Homo sapiens: one gene and its partner. The protein of the gene in region 2 purifies or fractionates together with the protein of the main gene of each other region. This does not show direct contact. Each region holds a gene or a part of one and is shown on either strand. Other genes may lie near its edges.

Region 1 (3,650 bases), on a different chromosome or scaffold from region 2:
CAGTGGCGGGCGCCTGTAGTCCCAGCTACTCGGAAGGCTGAGGCAGGAGAATGGCGTGAACCCGGGAGGCGGAGCTTGCATTGAGCCGAGATAGCACCACTGCACTCCAGCCTGGGCGAAAGAGCAAGACTCCATCTCAAAAAAAAAGAGGTGGGCAAGAGTCCTCCAGCCCTGGTCCCAGCCTTAGTTTCAGAGGTGAAGGTGCCTGACATCCTAGGAGGCCCTAAGTGCCTCAGGTGGCCAGTGCACTTGCAAGGAGGCTACAACCAAGTGGGCTCCTTCCAGGCTCCACCTCTGCTCTGCCCTGCCAGCCTTGGAAATGGCAGCTAGATCCCCCAGGCCCTGCAGAGCTCCTTAAATTGGAAGGCATCCTGGAAGTGCACTGAGGACAGTGTGTGTATATCGGGATGGCCATATTTGCCCTATGGCTGGTCACACAAGATGTTGAGTGGTGTAGCTGAAGTCCCTTTGCTGTGGGAGGCAGCAGTGAACAGCAGAAGTTGCAGGCTTAGGTTTTGGTTACAGACTTGCCAGCTGTGCTGACTTCAGGCCAATGAATTCCCCTCTCTGAGGCTCAGTTTCTTCATTTCTGAAGTGGGGATAATAATGGTACCATTTTTCTGAGCTGCAAGTTGCTGTGTTCCATGTGATGCTATCCACACTTAACAAAGCCCACGGTCAGTCTCTGCGTTCCCACCCTTCACTCTGTTCTCTAACCAGTTGCTCCAGCTGCACAGTTCTTTGGTCGCCTTGCTGATCTGCAGATTTCTTTGGCTTATTCCTGTGGCTCCTTGGAGATTCTTGGCATGATGAGATCCCCAGTCCAGGAGAGGCTGGCAGCCCCCTGGCGGGGTGGAACATGACAGGTTGGGGTATGCCCAGGATCTGATTGAGTGCTTTCACCTAGGAAACTGGAGGCGACCAGTGCCCAGAATATCGAGTTCCTACAGGTGATTGCCAAGAGGGAGGAGGCAATCCACCAGTCCCAGCTGCGGCTGGAGGAGAAAACACGGGAATGTGGGACCCTGGCAAGGCAGTTGGAGAGTGCCATTGAAGATGCGAGGAGGCAGGTCAGTCCCGATTTCATGAATGACTAGCTCTGTGACCTTGGGCAAATCACCTAAACTCTCAGCTTATTTCTCCATCTGAAAAATGGGCACACAGTAGTACCCGCTTCATGAATTAGTTGTAAGGATCACATTTTCATCGTAGAGGGCTCAGCACTTGATATCTGATGATTGCTCATTTACTCACTACCCTCTTGAGCCTCACATAGGCTTACCACATCTTAGGTGGTGACTCCTGGAGCACTGGCAAAGCTGGGTGGCAGGCATAGTCCCCATAGTTAGTTCCTGCCCCAGCGTTCTAGAGAACACAGTCCACAATGATGTGCAAGTGCTGTCTGCAAGACCAGATAGTGGGCCCAGCCTTCTCTTTGCCAAGTGTTCCCCATGTCCGGTAAACCAGTCTCATGTCTGGGCCTTTGAATGTGCAGGTGGAACAAACCAAGGAGCACGCACTCTCCAAGGAGCGAGCAGCCCAGAACAAAATCCTGGACCTTGAGACCCAGCTGAGCAGAACCAAAACGGAATTGAGCCAGCTGCGGCGGAGCCGTGATGATGTGAGTCAGGCTGGTGGGCCGGGCTAGGAGAGTGGGCAGCAGACCTAGCTTCTGTGGGGCCTGTGGGCCAAGGTGTTTTGTTGTTACTGTTTTTGTGAATATGACATGGTTTTATTTTTCTCCAATCACTTTCTATCCCTTAAGGATATCCTGGGTAGATATTTATTTATTTATTTAGAGACGGAGTCTCCCTGTGTCACCCAGGCTGGAATGCAGTGGTACGATCTCAGCTCACTGCAACCTCTGCCTCCTGGTTTCATATGATCCCCACCCCACCCTCAGCCTCCCAAGTAGCTGGGATTACAAGTATGTGCCACCATCCCTGGCTACTTTTTTGTGTGTATTTTTAGTAGAGATGGGGTTTCGCCATGTTGGCCAGGCTGGTCTTCAACTCGTGATCTCAAATGATCTGCCCATCATGGCCTCCCAAAGTGCTGGGATTACAGGTGTGAGCCACTGCACCCAGACTCACGTTTTGTTTTGTTTTGTTTTGTTTTGTTTTAGACAGAGTTTCATTCTGTCACCCAGGCTACAGTGCAGTGGTGCTGTCATAGCTCACTGCAGCTTCAAACTCCTGGGGTCAAGTAGTCCTCCCACCCCAGCCTCCTGAGCAGCTAGGACTACAGGCGCACACCATCACACCCAGCTAATTTTTGTATTTTTTGTAGAGATAGAGTCTCACTATGTTGCCCATGCTGGTCTTGAACTCCTAGGCTCCAGTGATCATTCCGTCCTGACCTCCCGAAGTGTTGGGATTATAGGCATGAGCCACTGTGCCTGGTCTTAGAATATTTTCAGAAAGAAACCCCATACCCATTAGAAGTCACTCCACACTCGCCTCCCCAAACCTCCTGGCAACTCCTAAGAAAGTCCCTATGTCTCTATGGATTTCTATTTTGGACACTGCACAGCGGGCCCATGCTCTGTTTCTCCTCGTTAGGCGGACCGCCGCTACCAGAGCCGGCTGCAAGACCTGAAAGATCGCCTGGAGCAGTCCGAGAGCACCAACCGCAGCATGCAGAACTACGTCCAGTTCCTCAAATCATCATACGCCAACGTGTTTGGGGATGGTCCCTATTCCACCTTCCTGACTAGCTCTCCCATCCGCTCCCGATCTCCTCCTGCCTGAGGCCACTTATCAGGGCCTGGAGCCCTGATGGAAGCCATAGGAACTCCAGAGTTGCCAAGCCATAGCTGAGAAGCCTGGTGGTTTTCCTCTCCCAGTGAAAAAATGGGTTCAGGGTCTTGTCCTTAGCTACTAGCTCTAGAAAAGTCCCAAAAGCAGCAGAAGGTGAAGCAGGAAGCACTTGGTTTTCTCCTTCCTGATATAGTCACCTGTTGGAAGTGTTAAAATTTCCTCGACAGGCCTTAAATTTACTACTACATTAGGGTACCACATTTTAACTTACCATGACTTTGCTCCTTCCTTTCCTGAGAAAATATTTCCACTGGATTTTTTCCACCAGTCCCCTTACAGCCCTCATTGTTTTAGGAATCTCTCTCAGGTTTTTTCTGACCTAAACCAGCAGGAAGTCGTCCTGGGCTGTAAGCACCATCACTTGCTTTTTTTTTTTTTCTGATTTCACAAGTGTGGTGTTTTCCCAAGGCTCCCTTCCCAAGCTCAGTGCAAACCTCTCACTCCCAAGTTTCTTTGAGGCCACTTGCCCCCAAGCACTTCACAATAGACCCTCGAGGGCTTGTGTCCATTTGGCCTTTTACAAGTGTAATGCCAATTTCATTGATTTTTGTTTCTTTTGGCCTGATTTGTATCTCTGGAATGCATTTATTCTTGAAATATTTGTGTGATTTTACAAAAAGCTTTTGTAATCAGTTATTTAAGGCTCCATTTGATGATTTCCTTTACCCAACCAGTCCTCATCCCTCCTCTAAAAAATGATTAAGTAAAATGCTGCAGGACAGCCAGTAGACATTTTTAAAGTACTTGGTGCCTGAAACATCAGGCTTCTCATTTCATTTTAGCTCAGGTTGGTGCTTTCACATTGTAATCAATGAACTGTCAGGAGGGAAC
Region 2 (3,750 bases):
CGAGTCACCAAGGATCTGGGGCCCGGTTTGGGTACCAGGGTGGGTGTGGCGGGCACCGGCCAGAGGCCGTGACCTGGGCAGGCCTCCTGGGGCAGCCGCCTAACCCTCTTTGTGCCGAGGGCCTGGATTTGGTACTGGGAGAGGAACCAGGTCACCGAGGAGAAGAGAGGAAAAGTAGGGGAAGGTTTTCGGGTAGTTCTTACCAACCACCCAGGCCCGTGGCCTCCTCAGAGAGCCTGGGAGTCACCAAGGAAGAAAATCAGTAAAAGGTGACTGCACCTTTCCCAGCCCCACCCAGTGCAGGGGACCTACAGGTGTTGTCTCAGCGGATGGCAAAACAACCCTGTAAAGTGGGCACCTTTAGGACCCCCCTTTGCAGATGGAGATGAGCTAGGTGGGGACTCCCACTTGTCCGGGTTCCTGCAGGGAGAGGGGATTTGAGCCCTGCTCTGTGTGCAAACCCAGACAGAAGGGCAGGAAACTGTATGGCCACATGCTTTCTTTGGGGCTCTCCTTCTTGTTGGCTTCCTGCAAAGTGCTCAGAAGTTCACATTCTCTTTCTCCCACTTCGGAGGCCTTGTTTTCCCCTCTCTGTCAAATGGGCGTATTCGGAGGCTTTGGGGCCAAGGAGAGCTGAGTTTTGACACCAGCTCTGCACTTACCCAAAGTGGGGCTGGGGACAGTCCCTTGTTGAGTCTCCATTTATTATTCTGATAAATAGAGATGATGGCCGGGTGCACTGGCTCATGCCTGTCATCCCAGCACTTCGGGAGGCCAAGGCAGGCGGATCATTTGAGGTCAGGAGTTCGAGATCAGCCTGGCCAACATGGCGAAACCCCATCTCTACTAAAAATAATAATAATAAAAATAGCCAGGCGTGGTGGCAGGTGCCTGTAGTCCCAGCACTTTGGGAGGCTGAGATGGGCAGATCACCTGAGGTGAGGAGTTTGCAACCAGCCTGACCAACATGGCGAAACCCCGTCTCTATTAAAAATATAAGTTAGCTGGGTGTGGTGGCTAACGCCTGTAATCCCAACACTTTGGGAGGCCAAGGCAGGTGGCTCACGAGGTCAGGAGTTCGAGACCAGCCTGGCCAATATGGTGAAACCTCGTATGTACTAAAAATATAAAAAATTAGCTGGGTGTGGTGGTGTGCACCTGTAGTCCCAGCTACTCGAGAGGCTGAGGCAGGAGAATCTCTTGAACCCAGGAGGTGGAGGTTGCAGCGAGCTGAGATCACACCACTGCACTCCAGCCTGGGTGACAGAGTGAGACTCTATCTCAAAAAACAAAAGCAAAAACAAAAAATAAAAGTTAGCCGGTCATGGTGGCACATGCCTGTAATCCCAGCTACTAGGGAGGCTGAGGTAGGAGAATCGCTTGAATCCAGGAGGTAGAGGTTGCAGTGAGCCGAGATCCTGCCACTGCACTCCAGCCTGGGTGACAGAGCAAGACTCCATTTCAAAAACAAACAAAAAAATAGAGATGATATGGACCCTACTTCAGGTTTGTTGACAGCAGTTAGTGAGAGGCTACAAGTCAGGGATTTAAGCCAGAGCCTGGTGGACGTGGGTCTGATTGGTATGCCTGTTATTAAAAGTATAGGCTCTGGCCGGGCGTGGTGGCTCATGGCCGGACGCAGTGGCTCATGCCTGTAGTCCTAGCACTTTGGGAGGCCGAGGTGGGTGGATCAACTGAGGTCAGGAGTTCAAGACCAGCCTGGCCAGCATGGTGAAACCCTGTCTCTACTAAAAATACAAAAATTAGCTGGGTGTGGTCGCGGGCACCTGTAATCCCAGCTACTTGGGAGGCTGAAGCAGGAGAATTGCTTGAACCCTGGGCAAAAGAGTGAAACTCCATCTCAAAAAAAAAAAAGTATAGGCTCTGGACATAGTTCCACTGTTTCCTACCTCCAGGACCCTGGGCAATTTATGGACTCTGCCAAGCCTCAGTTTCCTTATTTGTAAAATAGGGAAAACAATAGTACTCACATCACAGGGCTGTTGAAAGGATTAAGTAGATACACATGTGAAGTACAGTACTTACCACGACTGGCGCAGAGTAAATGCTCAGTAAATCACTCATTCACTTATTGGACAAATACTGAATGAGCACCTATTGTTTGCCAGGTGCTGTTCTAGGCGCTGAGGATGCAGCCGTGCACAAGACGGATGAAATCCCTGCCCTCAGGGGGCCGACATTTGCGGAGTAAATAAAGGAAAGGTAAATATCTTCCACGTCAGATTGAAAAATAAAGTCAGAAAGGGGATTTGCCATTTTATTTTTTGTAGAGATGGGATCTCGCTATGTTGCTCTGCCTGGTCTCAAACTCTTGGCCTCAAGTGATCTTCCCACCTTGGCCTCCCAAAGTGCTGGGATTACAGCCATGAGCCACTGCCCCTGGCCTGGTTTGCTACTTTAAATTGGGGTGGAGGGAGGGTAACAGGGAAGGTGTCTCTGAGATGATGCTGGGCAGGAGCCGAGGGGGTTGTGGTGCCAGAGCTGCTGATAGCTGTGTTCTTATGACCTGCATCCTGATGGCTTCTGAGTCCTGGTTCCTCTGAGGCCTCTGCAGCCTGCTTCCGGGCAGGGGGCCACACCTGTGCTCACCTGTCCTGGTTTGCCTCCAGCACTGTGTCCTGGGCTGCCCTCGTGGGGCAGGGCTCTAACAAGGGGGAGAAGGCCCTGAGGAGGTGCGGGTGAGGCCAGGTGAGAGGCACAGAGGATGTCCTGGCGCCTCCTGCTCCCCTCTCCCCACCTGTGACCTCACCTCACTCTTCTGCGTCCTGGCCCAGAGCACTGGGACCTCATCCCAGTATCAATCAGGATGCCTCCCTGATGTCCCTGGGCACCTCTCACTCACCTTGTCCCAAACTGACCTTGGCATCTTCCCCCAGAAGTGTATCTTCCCCTGGTGCCCTTATCAGGGAAGGCGCCACTACCCACCTCATCGCTGGGAAAAGAGACCTGGGGCCTCATCCCTGATGCCTCCCCCTACTCCCCGAACACGCCACCCCTTCTGGCAACTGACTCTACGTATATCTTCTCTCCCTCCCTGAAGCCCCTGCCCTGGTCTAGGTGACCACTCCACCACCCCACCTTGCCTGGGTCCTCCTGTCTCCCCACCAGCCTCCTCCCTAGTCTCTGGCCCTGGTCTCCCCGACTCCCATTGCCCCTCCACATGGCAGACAGAGGCTCTTTCCAAAACAAAAACCTGCCTCTGCCCCTCCGTGCTCAGAACCTGCTGTGGCTCCCCAGTGCCCTTGGGAGGAAGCCCAGGTTCCTCACTGTAGCCCAGGAGGCCCTGCCCGGCCTGACTCCTGCCCACCTGACCAGCTACATAGAATACCACTTGCTTCCGGGAACCCTCTGCTTCAGTTCTTCTGTTTCACTTGCACTCTACCCAGAATATCCCTGCTTCCCTCTGCTCTATTCCACTGCCTTCCCCAAACCCTCTCCTCCAGGAAGCCCTCCTGGACTTCAGGGCCTGGAATTCCCTGTCTCAGCCCTGACTGCCTTGGGTTCTCGCTGTCTGGGGCTGGGTCTTTTTCCCCCACTGGCCTGGGAGCCTCAGCTGGGCACGGCTGGGCTGTCACCACTGTGTCCCCAGCACTGCCCAGCAAATCACCTGGCACAGAGCAGAGGCTCACAGCATGTTTGTGGAACTGGACACCAGGTGTGGATGACACAGAGAGAGGAGTCTTCAGAGAGGCTCAGGTTCCTGGTGATCTGCTGTCTGCCTGCGGAGTG

The links. The genes of interacting proteins can lie anywhere in the genome.
Region 1: the proteins of CEACAM16 (region 2) and ODF2 purify together in Homo sapiens (affinity purification with mass spectrometry; one large-scale study listed by BioGRID and IntAct). This does not show direct contact.

The regions. Positions count from the first base shown.
Region 1 is NC_000009.12:128,497,506-128,501,155, forward strand, and holds part of ODF2 (outer dense fiber protein 2), read left to right. Parts: intron 1-907; coding exon 908-1,070; intron 1,071-1,495; coding exon 1,496-1,621; intron 1,622-2,561; coding exon 2,562-2,750; 3' UTR 2,751-3,650. UniProt on the Homo sapiens protein: Seems to be a major component of sperm tail outer dense fibers (ODF).
Region 2 is NC_000019.10:44,697,557-44,701,306, reverse strand, and holds the start of CEACAM16 (cell adhesion molecule CEACAM16 precursor), read right to left. Parts: upstream 2,157-3,750; 5' UTR 2,047-2,156; intron 1-2,046. UniProt on the Homo sapiens protein: Required for proper hearing, plays a role in maintaining the integrity of the tectorial membrane.